Homo sapiens: one gene and its partners. The protein of the gene in region 3 purifies or fractionates together with the protein of the main gene of each other region. This does not show direct contact. Each region holds a gene or a part of one and is shown on either strand. Other genes may lie near its edges.

Region 1 (4,589 bases), on a different chromosome or scaffold from region 3:
TGATAGTTTTTTATGTGAATTGTTTAGAGAGTTATGCAAAATAAATGCATTTGATACTCCTTATTAACTGCTCCTGAGAAGCAAGGAGTTTAGTGTCTCTATAAATAATACCTTTGACCATATGTGGAGAACCAAGGAATATAATGAAGTTAGTTGATACTCCTAAGTTCACTGAACAAAGTGATGAAAGAAAAGGATGAGCCCAGGGATTCTAACTCCCATGGGCAGACTTTGAGACTCTATTCAGATTTCAGCCATAAGAATTAGACATCTGTGGCCCTGAAACCACAGATACTAGTAATAGTGACTCAAAGAGTAGAAAAAAAATCACATTTCAATACTGAATCATTTTCAGGTCTGTGGTGTATAACTACACAACAAGATTCTATTATAAGCAATAGCATGTTCCTTCCACTTCAAATTATAACCCCCATCAGTTCAATGGTAAGAATTTTTAGTAAATACAGTGGTGGGTGTATTCTTTTTGTGAGCCTAGAAGGGCTCACTTGCTTATCTGGATGCTTTAGCCAGTCAAGGATATAGATAAGGATGCCATTGATATGAATTTGTGAGATTATTTTATCCTAGTCTCACTTCTTAGTGAGTAGACAGAACTTCAATTTCTAACATTTGTTTTATGAAAATTCCTCAACTTACCTATAAAAAAGGTGTAATCAGCTATTATTTCCTTTTAGTAATAAGATTACATTGAAACTACTATAATACTTTAAGATAATAGACAGGAATAATATAATCATCTTATGACATATTAGTTTATTACATGCATAAAACTATAAATGATAAAAATGAAGAATGTAATGAACAGTTTATGTTTTTTTAAAACAAAGTCAGATTTTAAAAGTTGTACACGGAGAGCAAAAATCACTTTACGTACTCATGATTGGCTTTAATATTTCTTTACACTATACATACTGAAAATGTTTACATTTACTAATAAGGAATGCCAAGCGTATCCATCACCATTTGAATAGCTTGCAGGGGATTTGTGATTTCTTCCATGTTATCTCTTCTCAAAACCCAATCTGGCTTAAGTCTGTTAAAAAAAAAAAAAAAGTCTGGCATTAATAAAGTTCTTCTCTTTAGAGTTACCTTCACCTTTTTTCTCTTAACTAAATTGTAGCTACTCCTGAACACATCATTTCCCTTACAAACTGCTCAAAGAGGTGGGAGAACTTCATATTATTGCCCATCACTAGTTCCAGACTATTTCTCTCCATCCTTTCTAAAAAATAATGCTGGCTTCTTTGAAGCTTATGCTATTTAGCTTGACCACTGCCTTTTGGTCATCAGCCAAACTCTCAGTGTCTTATTCCTTGTAAACCTGGTTCTTGTTCTCCTCTTACCTACTGTCACCGTTCTCAGCAACAGCAACATCTATGTGGCCAAAAAGCCAACAACCTAGTCCGTTTTTGCCCCACTTTCCTTCAATTCTACCTCAACCAATCCTTTTTAATATGATCACATACTAGACTTTGTCATCATCAGAAAGTGTGCGACCACTGAAATCTTGAGACTTCCATTCTCCATCCACCATTTCTGATTCATCCATGTCATATGCTCTAACACAGTCATTGAACCAGTTCTTCTACCCCACTGAGATCTCCACTTCATTTGGCCTCAACACATACCCAACATCCACCAGAATGCTGTCCTTACTTTCCTGTGTATCTAGCTCAGGTGCATCAGTATTATCAAAACCTTTGCAAATGCCATTAACTGTTGTCTCTCTCTCCTACCAAACTAGTCTGAAGAATTCTACTTGGATTTCAAATTGAGTCAAAATATCTGCCTTCTCCATTCCTATACAGCTGCATATTACTAAAAATGTTTACACAACCAAGCTGATTTTATTTTTTGCCAATAATTACAAATCTAAAATGAGCATTTGAAATTGCCAGCATGCTCCCTTTCTCTCCAAGATGACTATCTTGGTCCTTTCCTCTTTTCAAACTTCCCCTCCATACCCTCTGAGCTGCTTCTGAGTTGTTGAGTTTATAATCTCAAACTTATTGAGAAAATAGTATCAAACCGAGGGAGTTCATGCATCTTCTCACATAATTCCCTACTATATGCATTTCCATCATCTTATTTTGTCCTGCTAAAAATCCAAAGATATATCAATTGGTGAGTGAACAAAGTGTGGTACGACCATACAATGGAATAGTACTAAGTGATAGAAAGGAATGAAATTCAAATCCATGCATAAACATGAACGAATTTCAAAAGCATTATGCTAAGGAAAAGAATCCAGTCACAAAAAGCTATCTACTATATGATTCCATATATGTGACAGTATAGAAATGGCAAAACTAAAGGTACAAAAATCAGATCAGTAGTTCCCAAAATCCAGGGAATAAAGAAAGAGAACTGACAACAAAGGGGCATAAGGAAACTTTGTGTTACAGAAATATTTTGTATCTCAGTGGTGGTAGTTTCCTAACTGTATACATTTGTCAAAACGAATTGAATTGCATACATTTAAAGGATGCATTTATACTGTCAGTAAATTTTACCTCAAAAGCCTGACCTACATCAAAATTTTAAGAGAATCCATTCATATGTTAGTATGAGCTTTTAAAACATAATGAATATTAAATTCTACCAAGTCCTTAAAAAACATGTAGAAATGGTCCCATTAATATATTTCAAGCAAATGAACTTTACATTATGCTGTGAAATATGCATGCATAAAACCAATTTATAACTACATTATACAGTTTATAATTATGAGTATAATTATAAAGCTAATGGCTGTGTAACCACTCAGGTCAAGAAATAGTGTGTTGTCAATAATGTAGGATTTGTACCTAGTATAGAGAATTGCTAAGTCTCAAGAAGGAAAGAAGGAAGGAAGGGAGGGAGAGAGGGAGAAGGGGGAAGAAAAAAAGGAGGAGGGAGAAAGAAGGAAGGGAGTAAAAACACTAATTAAATGCCATGACGGTTCACCAAAATAAATTAAATCTTTTTGCCAATAAAATCAGAAAATGTCAATCTAAATTTCCAGAAGGAGAAATTTCAAGAATCAGGGTGATTATGGGAGGACTGGAGGTTGATATTTTGGCTAAGAAGGACTTTTGGCACTTCTTAAACAGTGTAGTTTGTCTTTCATGCAAAATAAAATAAATAAAATAAAATGACAAAACTTATAACAAGCTTCTTAGCCTTAGCTCTTAACTATTTAATATAAGAAGTTTGTTGAATAACTATTAAATGTCCAAAGCTACAGTATAATGTTATTTCTTTATTTACCAAGACTGCTTCTTTTAAATTTACCAAACATTCCATTCTTATTCATATGTTGTTTCTCCACTGAAAAGCACATCTTGTTTATGGTAAGTGCTCAATAAATATTTGTTAAATGAATGAATGAACAGTGACACAAATTTATGGACTATATTTAATTGCTTACCTTGAAACTATTCTGGTCCTTACAGGTGTTTCTGGGATAAAAGGAATGCTTATAGAAGAATTCTTCTTTTGCTTGTAAAGTATTCTTTCAGTATTCATTTTATGTTTATGAGCTGTAAGTTTGTAGAGACTGTAAATACGGTCAACAACTTTGGACCTACTTCGTACATCCTACAAAATAAAATGCACAGTTACTAAAAAGTAATAAGAATTAAAATTTTATCTCTTTTAGACTAGCAAAATCAAATATAATAAAAACTATGCAGTAAACCTTTTTTTTTTCTTTTTTGAGATGGTCTCTCTTGCTCTGTCGCCCAGGCTGAAGTGCAGTGGTGCGATCTTAGCTCAATGCAATCTCTGCCTCCCGGGTTCACGCCATTCTCCTGCCTCAGTCTCCCAAGTAGCTGGGATTACAGGCACCCGCCACCACACCCGGCTAATTTTTTTTGTATTTTTAGTAGAGATGGAGTTTCACCGTGTGAGCCAGGATGGTCTCAATCTCCTGACCTCGTGATCTGCCTACCTCAGCCTCCCAAAGTGCTGGGATTACAGGCGTGAGCCACCGTGCCCAGCCTGCAGTAAACTTTTAAGCTTTGAATAATCAAAGAAACCTCACCAAGTTTGGCAGGTAGATTGATTTAAATTACGAGCTAATTTGCAAGGCAATTATAAGGAAGATAAATATTCAAAAGTTGCATACTTAACTCCACACTGAATATAAGAAGGAATTATTATAGTCAACATAGCAATTATAGTCAACACACCTATCATATCCAGTTACCAAGTCTTGAAAAGTTTACCTCTGCAGTTTCCAAAGTCTTCTACTTACCTCTCAGCGACACAATCCTAAGACAAGCACAATCTCTTGCCTAGATCACTACATATCAACACTTGCCACCTTCTTTGATGGTCTCACTATATCCACACATGCTCTCCCAAATTCATTCTTCAATCAGAAGCCAGAGTGTTGTTAAAATTTAAATTGGAAAATATTATTCCCTTGCTTTACCCTGCAGCGGTTCCCACTTACCAGGATAAAGGCCACAGTCCAATTATGGCCTATGGTTTCCCCATGTTAATTATGACACTTAAAAAGAATGACTCAGAGGTCTCATCGTAGAAAAGCTTGAAATACAATTATGGTTACAACAGGAGGATAA
Region 2 (4,046 bases), on a different chromosome or scaffold from region 3:
TACCCAGTTTTACAGAGGAGGAAAACTGCCTCACTGAAATATGAAGTAATTGACTCAAGGCAAAAACAGCTAATAAATGGTACTGTCAGGATTTGGATTCAGGTTCTTATGTTACTCAAGAAATAGCGGTTTTAAAGAGAGAGAGAGAAACCTCTCCATTGTGTAATAAAAATTCTAATGGGACTATTATTCTGAGCAAAAGAGAGAAAAACATTTTTACAAATCTTCTGGTCAATGTGTAGGCAAACTATAGACTAGCTGTTTAGTTAAATTTAAGTGTTCAGAAAAATTGGATTTGACACACATAGATACTACCATTTTTAAGCTTTTTTCTAAGGAGGACCATGATTAACCCATTCCTAAAGTGTGGAGAAAAATGTTTCTCATTAAAACAAGGTTTATGAAGAGACTGACAATTCTGAAAAAAAAAATGAAATTGAAATTGTCCAGTAATTGATCTTGTCATTCAAATAATTACTATCAGAAGAAAGACCCTTTCTCTTGCTGACCCTTGCCTAGAATCAAGAGACTGCCCTTGCCTTTGCCTGCATGTGACTTGGATGACTATTAGTCATTTTCATCAGTAGCTCAGAGATCTAAGAAAACTCTGTACAACAGATGCTACAGTTATTTTTCCTCCCCTGTGTTGCCTGTTAGTTGCAAATTAGAACAGAAGTTCCAAAAACCTTAATACTGCTTTTGGATGATGACAGGAGAGACTTCTTGAAAAAAAGGAGGATATGATTAAGGGATTTCCACAAAATCCCTTGTGGTCAGAAACCTGGAGGATGTAATATTTCTGCTTTTTTCAATATTAAAATAGAAATTTTCTTAAATAGGGAACTTGAACTGTTTAGATAGAATTTGAAAAATGTTAAGGTTATTTCTTTTGTGTGAGCTTTCTCCTTAAAAAAAAAAAAAAAAAAAAAAAAAAAGCTGGGCGTGGTGGCTGAAGCATGTCATCCCAGCACTTTGAGAGGCCAGCTTGAGGCCTCAAGAGGATAGCTTGAGGCCAGGTTTCCAAGACCAGCCTTGGCAACATAGCAAGATCTTATATCTACAAAAAACTTTTTAAAAATTTAGCCGGACATGGTGCTGTATACCTGTAGTACCAGATCCTTAGGAGGCTGAGGTGGGAGGATTGCTTGAGCCTAAGATTTCAAGGTTATAATGAGCTATGATTGCACCATTGCACTCCAGCCTGGGAGGCAGAGTGAAACCCTGACTCGAAAAAATAAAAAAGTAAAAATAAATTTAAAAATCATTTTTATGTGACTGATTTTTACTGGGTTATTCATTTTTCTCAGTACTGTAGAAATGAATTCATTGTTCTGTATTATAATAAAGTTTTGATATATGTGAATGAATATTAAAAACAGTATTCATGACATTTATACTACCTTTAGGGTGGAAAAATGGCATACTACGAAATGCGAGCTGAACATAGTGTGGATATAGATGTGGATATTGATTGGCCTATTGCAGAGCAAAGAGTATTAAGGTAAAAACAAATAAACCTTTATAACCTTTGTACTAAATCTTAATAATTATATTTCTAGATACTGATTTCTGATACTTCAGACATCTTAGGATCTTTGTAATTACTTTGTTCATGTGAGGAAGACATGTAAAATATGTGTTTACATGGCTTCAATAAAGTGAGAAACATTATCTGGCTAGACCACACTACTTTTACTTACTGTACTATATGTTAAAATATATATGTGAAGTAAATTTGGAGAGTAATGTTTGAATAATTGAATGGAGGGTGACATTTCATGTATTGGTTTAGCCAGATGAGAGGGAGTGATTAGTACTGCACTTGTACTCAAAGGTCTATTTTGGTTTCTTTTAGATATGGCTATTTTGGCAAAGAGAAGCTTAAGGAAATAAAACTTTTGGTTTGCAATATTGATGGATGTCTCACCAATGGCCACATTTATGTATCAGGAGACCAAAAAGAAATAATATCTTATGATGTAAAAGATGCTATTGGGATAAGTTTATTAAAGAAAAGTGGTATTGAGGTATGTGCTCCCTGAATATAGCAGTATTTTATAATATTTTGATTCAGGGTCAAAGAACATGCAAGGAATTAAGAGATTTAAATTTTTAGTATTAACTCTTAAAATATCTGAAATTTGGCCTTCATACGCCTAGAAAATTATTATACTATTTAGTTTTAGATGAGTAGAATTAGGAATTTGTTAATCAGCAAATAATATTTCTTGTTTATTCAGTAAATATAAACATAACTACTTTTAAATGGGAGCTATCTAATGTTTCCCAAAGGATCTTGCAGCAAGAAAGATTCCCTAGATAATAGGTGTACCATTTTAGAAAAGGACGATATCCTGTGGATTTTTAAAATCTAGCTTATTCTTATGAATGACATTTTTGATTCAAAATAACTTAACGTTTAAGTGTATTTTTTTAAATGAAAGCTAGCTAAGATAATTATAATTTACCAGAAATCCTAAATATGTATTGCTAAGCAGCACAAGAGAGAGGTTATAGACTTTCCTCTGGATAAATTGAATTATAGGAGAATCTTAGAGTAGTATCAGACAATATATGTTGTAATTTTTACCTGTAGATAGAATCCTTTCTATTGTAGAAAATAAAATACTGTGTCTCACCTTTATTGGGCTATGAGAAATAAAATGAGCTTTGTTTTAAAGCATCATGATTTTAATTCGACAGTCAGTTTTCTTACTTGGACCTTCAGAAAGTCAAAAGATGACTCGTTTGTGATTTGGACTGTCTACAAGGTCAATTATTATGAAAGATTTCTGTTTTCTTCACTTTTTAATTTTTCCCTTCTTCCTCCAATCCTTTTTTTTTTTTTTTTTAAGGTGAGGCTAATCTCAGAAAGGGCCTGTTCAAAGCAGACGCTGTCTTCTTTAAAACTGGATTGCAAAATGGAAGTCAGTGTATCAGACAAGCTAGCAGTTGTAGATGAATGGAGAAAAGAAATGGGCCTGTGCTGGAAAGAAGTGGCATATCTTGGTTGGTATCTTTTTATTCACCCATAGTAAAATGGACCAGGAATTAATTATTTACTTATTTTTAAAGAAATGACAAAGCACATCCTCCAAATGGGTATGATTGTAGGGAAATAGGAACTCTTTTAACAAACACTGCTGATCAAACTGTTAAACTGGGACAGTCTTTCTGGAGGTTAGTTTGATAATAGGTATCAAATGTAGAATGATTATTAGCACAAGCTGTGAAGTCAGACTGTACCACTGATTAGCCAGTTGTGATAAGATGAATGTTGTTTCCTCATCTGTAAACTGGAGATATCGAGAGTACCTATTACCGTAGGGCTCTGGAAGGGATTAATAAAATAATATGAGTAAAGCACTTAGCAGAATTTCTAGTACATATGAATTACACTCTGAATAGTTTTTGCTGCTAATTGAATGTACATACTTTTTCCTCCAAATTCCAATTCCAGGAAAGAAATGAGACAAATGGGCCAATAGTGAAGTTAAAAGAACCCACTTAAATGTCCTGTGAAAAATAGAATATCCCTAAAAAGGATTACTATGCAACCATTACAAACAGTGCTGTGACCTGTATTTATTTGCATGATCAAATATAACAATGTTTTTCACTTGGATATTAAGCAATACACTTACTTACCAGGTACCTATGATGATACGCAGCATGGAACTGGTTGTGGGAACTGTAGGCTTTCTGCTTGCAGAGCTTACAGTCTGATGATGTCAACATTTTAAAATTGATAAGTTATTAAGATGCATAATAACTATAAATCATGTATGAAAGCAGTATTTACAAGGGTAATATGAGCCTCAAAATAAGAAGCACAGGAAAAACTTTGGGAGCATGTGATCTAGAGACTTCAGGAATAACCCTTAAACCACACATGAAGATTTAATGGACATAAATGCTGCAGAATGTTTGTTAAAGACAGATCCAATTTTTATTAGAAGAAAATTTTAGTGGAATGTATAACAAATTCCAACTATACTTATTATCTTTCTTTGGGATGTTAAGCAAGCTTCTGTATACCTTAGTTT
Region 3 (4,727 bases):
GATGTTCTCAAACAAAATAGTAGGCATTACACGAAAATGATTCTGTGATCAAATACTTTTGGGGAATGCTGCCTTTCATAATGTACATAATAGTTTAATTCTTTTTTTGGAGATGGGGTCTTGCCATGTTGCCCAAAGTAAACTTGAACTCTCACCTCAGCTTCTCAAAGTGTTGCGATTATAAGTGTGAGCCACTGCACCCAGCCCTTAATAGTCTAGGTTTCTGAGAGATGTGTTCCGCAGTAATTTGCAAAATGTGTAAAAATGTATTTGACCATGGACCCCTTTTCTGTGATGAATCTTGAACTGGTATCCCTGGAACAGATTTTGGGAGAAGTTGGGCTAGAGCATAAGATGAGTACAAGGAGCTGATAGGAAATCAAGTTGGGAAAAAAGCTGGTGGCTGGCTCGTGGAGGGCCTTGTATATTATGTTAAGCAAACAATTAGCTTTTTCCTTTAGATGGTGGGAAAACTTTGAGGAATTTTAAGCTATTGAGTAAGATGATTAAATCTAAATTTTTGGTTTTCTGTTAAGAGTGAAGAAATGGACTACAGGGCATGTCATTACATTCTTAAATTTTCTGAGACACTGATTTTTGCTTTAGTTTTTGGAAAATTGCAATTTTTTTTTCAACTTTACTACCACATGCATGATAACAGATAAACTCTACTAAATATCACATCTTATATTAGAAGCATTTAAAATACCCTGGGCTTTTATTATTTTATTTTCTGAAAATAAACTTTGAATACTAATTGTCCGCAGTCTCTTCTATAGAATAAATAACCTTTCCTTCTCCCATCTGCCCACTAAAAATCAAATACCGATACAAAACACAAGCTCTTGACTATAGCTGTCTTTTAAAAATAGCAGATATTATAATTTTTTTCTAATTTCGCATTTGTATTTGGCCAAAGTTGAATAAGTTTTAGTGCTGCTAGATGTAACTCAAACCATTTGCTCGATATCTGATGTATTTGTAACCCATCTATTTTTCTCCCAACATGACTAAATTAAAATGGCTATAGGTGCTATTTTAGAGTAATGTATTTGTAGATTTTGTGTACAAACTCTAAACAAAAATAGAAAATTTCCTGTCTGGAGTGATTCACTGATGGCCTACCATACAGACTGCTCTGAGGAATTCAGGATAAGACTGGCCTTTAAAAAAAATGTGGTAAAATATACTACATAAAATTTACCATGTTACCCGTTTTTTAATTTTTTAAATTTTCTATAGTTTTTCTTTAGAGACAGGGTCACACTCTCAGCTGGAGTGCAATGGCAAGATCATAGCTCCCTACAACCTCAAACTCCTGGGCTCAAGCAATCCTCCCACCTCAGCCTCCTAAGTAGCTAGGCCTACAGGCACGTACCACCACACCCAGCTAAATTTTTAAAAAAGTTTTTTCATAGAGGACAGGTCTCATTATGTTACCCGGACTGTCGTGAAATTCTGACTTCAACCCTCCTGCCTGGGCCTCCCAAGATGCTAGGATTACAGGTGTGAGCCACTGCACCCAGCTAAGTCTATTTCTAACTTAAAATACTTTATACTTTAATTTTTAATTTGTAGTACCTTTAAGTTATAATGCATCAAATGCTGTTCCTCCATTGGAAAACAGCCATTTCATGAATAATTGTGTAGTCTGAACCTGTGTGTCTTGATACATTCTTGTCTTCTAATGCTATGCATGTTTCGTAAGTTTGTATAGTGGTTTTAATTAGAAAAAAGAAAAATAGGCTATAAACTCTACTAAAGAAAAATTCAAAAGTAAAAAACTCATTGCAGTTTTCCAAATTCCTTTTTTTTTTTTTTAAGACAGGGTCTTACTTTGTCACCCAAGCTGGAGTGCAGTGGCGTGATCCCATTACACTGCAACCTATGTCTTCCAGGCTCAAGCAGTCTTTCTACCAGCTTCCCGAGTAGCTGGGACTACAGGTGCACACCACCACACTTGGCTAATTTTTAAATTTTTTGTAGAGAAAAGATCTCACTATACTGCCCAGGCAAATTCTTATTAGCACCAACTGTCACCACAAACTCATCCTTTTCTGACATACCCATTCAAAAAAACTACTAACCAAATGTCCACAATCCTGCTAAAAGTGTTGAAAAGCTCTTAGTATAGTATTAAGTGTTATCTACAAAATTTGTGATTAACCAAAACACACACAATTGTGTTCAAATGTTATATATTTGAAGAGTCAATTTAACAATTCCTTTTGGTAGACTTCTTTTGCACCTCTTTACGCTTCTTTTTTTTCCTCTTACCACCCTCTTTGACTCCTGCTGAGAAAATAGGGGGATCTCTGTTGCTGGTAACCCAAGATATACCTCCCTCATCATTGTCCACGAAAGTATATTGAGATACATGTTTGGAGCTGTGAGAATTTGGTGAATAGTTGTTGAATGACTGTGTTCTCCAGCTGCATTCTTTTGCAAAGCCCTCTTCATTGGCCACACTATTTACAAGAAAAAATGTCAACTCTCCATTATCTTCAGCTTCTCTTTCTTGATCACTTTCAATAATTTTCTTTGTATTAATATTTCTGCCATTAACGATTTTGTCTGAAGTTGTAACAGATATGTAGTTGTCCATCCCACTATTATCAAAAGCCAGGGAAGAGAAAGAAGTAAGGCCTTCATGCCCCAATGAACCCTGTGATGTATATCCTGTATCATATGAAGAAAATTTCTCAAAAATTGGATATTCACTGGCAGTGGAGAAAAAGTATCCTGCATCTCTGTTTCTGTTTCCATAGGAGCTTCCTGGACGATTTAACAGGTCCTCAAGCGAGTCTTCAAAGAAGTGAAAAGAAAATGGATCCCTTTCATGAAAAATTTCTTTAAAAACATCATCTGGCTTATGGAATGTGAAGCCGTACTCACATTCATCATCAAAATGACTTCCACCTCCGTTTAATCCTTCTGTGCCATATTTATCATAAATGTCCCGTTTCTCATCATTTGATAATACCTCGTATGCCTCAGCTACTTCTTTGAATTTTCTCTCTGCTTCTTCTTTATTTTCTGGATTTTTATCAGGGTGCCATTTAAGTGCCACTTTATGATAAGCTTTTTTAATGTCCTCAGGTGAAGCATATCTTTGCAGTCCTAGAACTTCATAGTAATCCACCATGTTTTAACAGATAGTTGGAAGTGGGTGTGCTGGGTATTGAGAACCGTGGTTTCCTCAGCTCAGGCTCTGCTGGTGGTGGTGATAGAGGTAGTGACTGCAAATAGGTACACTTTTATGTTAAAGACAATGTTATTACCATGTGCTAAGAGATGAGGATACTGATTATGTGGCAAGCAGAGTTACAAATATGTCAGAGAGGGCTGCATTATGGTGTCATTCTGGGGTCAGTGTAGGGACTGGACCTTCCAAATAGAGCTAGTCCAGAGTCGTACCAGACCATCCTGAATCCTCTGGACTGTTTCCCCTGTATGTTTCCCTGGAAGCTTCAGGCAGTGCCTCATAAGCCAATGGAATCTGTTGCTAATAGCCACAGCATATCCCTTGCATAATATGACCTCTAGATTACTGCGCCTTAATTGCTTCCCAGCTCTTCTATGCTTTGGTTTAGAAAAATGAAGTACTGACTTACGGGTGAAGAAAGTATTCAAACAGTTGACATATTTATTTCAGTCAAGAAACAGTTCAGAGGGAGATACAAACAAGTAACTTAGTTACAATATAATAGTTATGATGAGAGGAAGTACTGGATGCTAAACAATTATATGAGAGACAGCTCAGGCTGGGGGTGTCAATGAAAGCCTCTTGGAGGAAGTAGCCTGATATGTTAACTTTCTGCATGCCAGTGGTAAGTCATTTGAGATTATAGTATCTTTGTCCACCCAAGGTTTACTGCTGTAAAACATGTAATTAAAGATTTGGAAAGTTGTGTGTTTATGTATTCACTGTATAATTATTGATTGTCTACTTTGTGCCAGGCACCGTTTTAGCCACTGGTGATAGCAGTATTGAACAAAAGACACCAGTTTTCCTGGTGCTTGCATTATAATAGAATACAAATAGGAGAACAAATAAAATAATTTAAGATAATGCGATATGTGCTCCAAAAAAAATAGCAATGTGCTGGGGGCAGAGCGCTACTTTAGATTGGTTTTAGAAGGCTTCTGAGGAGATGACATTATTGCTGAGACCTATATGACAGTCAGCCACATAGTGATCTAATATGGTAGCCACTGGCCATGTTGATGGACATTTTGGTTGTTGCCAGTTGGGGCTGTTGGACATAAAGCTAGCACTTATTTCAAGTACAGTGGGAAGCCTTTGTGGGGAGTGGGGAATATGCAAGTTTAATGATGTGATTTACATTTGTAATGGATCAGTGGCTACTATTTGGAAATTCAGTCATGTATGGGAAAGTAGAATTCGAGAGCCAAATTAGAAACAGACCAAAGGTGATTTTCTTTGGGGATAAACTACCAGTAGTCTAGACCCGAATTTAAAGGTCTTATATTCTATACCTGGCTCATTTTATTGTCTGAGAAAATTCCCTGTAATCTTTGTTTTTCCTCCTCTATGTTGTGTTTATTTTATTTTCCATCACATTTATAACCCCTCAGTTAAATGATACGCTAATGAAATCTAAAACTGTAGTGTATGCTTCTAGTCTTTCAAGACCATTTGTCAGGTCTGAATATTTTTTTGCTTTGCATTTTTATATATACTCATTTTTTAGAGGTATTGTGAA

The links. Proteins that work in one complex are often made in the same cells at the same time.
Region 1: the proteins of DNAJB7 (region 3) and ASPM purify together in Homo sapiens (affinity purification with mass spectrometry; one large-scale study listed by BioGRID and IntAct). This does not show direct contact.
Region 2: the proteins of DNAJB7 (region 3) and CMAS purify together in Homo sapiens (affinity purification with mass spectrometry, with the first as the bait; one large-scale study listed by BioGRID). This does not show direct contact.

What each region holds. Positions count from the first base shown.
Region 1 is NC_000001.11:197,083,373-197,087,961, forward strand, and holds the end of ASPM (abnormal spindle-like microcephaly-associated protein), read right to left. Parts: intron 3,601-4,589; coding exon 3,431-3,600; intron 1,055-3,430; coding exon 952-1,054; 3' UTR 755-951; downstream 1-754. UniProt on the Homo sapiens protein: Involved in mitotic spindle regulation and coordination of mitotic processes.
Region 2 is NC_000012.12:22,059,426-22,063,471, forward strand, and holds part of CMAS (N-acylneuraminate cytidylyltransferase), read left to right. Parts: intron 1-1,406; coding exon 1,407-1,501; intron 1,502-1,855; coding exon 1,856-2,027; intron 2,028-2,855; coding exon 2,856-3,009; intron 3,010-4,046. UniProt on the Homo sapiens protein: Catalyzes the activation of N-acetylneuraminic acid (NeuNAc) to cytidine 5'-monophosphate N-acetylneuraminic acid (CMP-NeuNAc), a substrate required for the addition of sialic acid.
Region 3 is NC_000022.11:40,858,850-40,863,576, forward strand, and holds DNAJB7 (dnaJ homolog subfamily B member 7), read right to left. Parts: upstream 3,265-4,727; 5' UTR 3,146-3,264; coding exon 2,216-3,145; 3' UTR 1,933-2,215; coding exon of another isoform or gene 1,829-1,932; 3' UTR 700-1,828; downstream 1-699. UniProt on the Homo sapiens protein: Probably acts as a co-chaperone.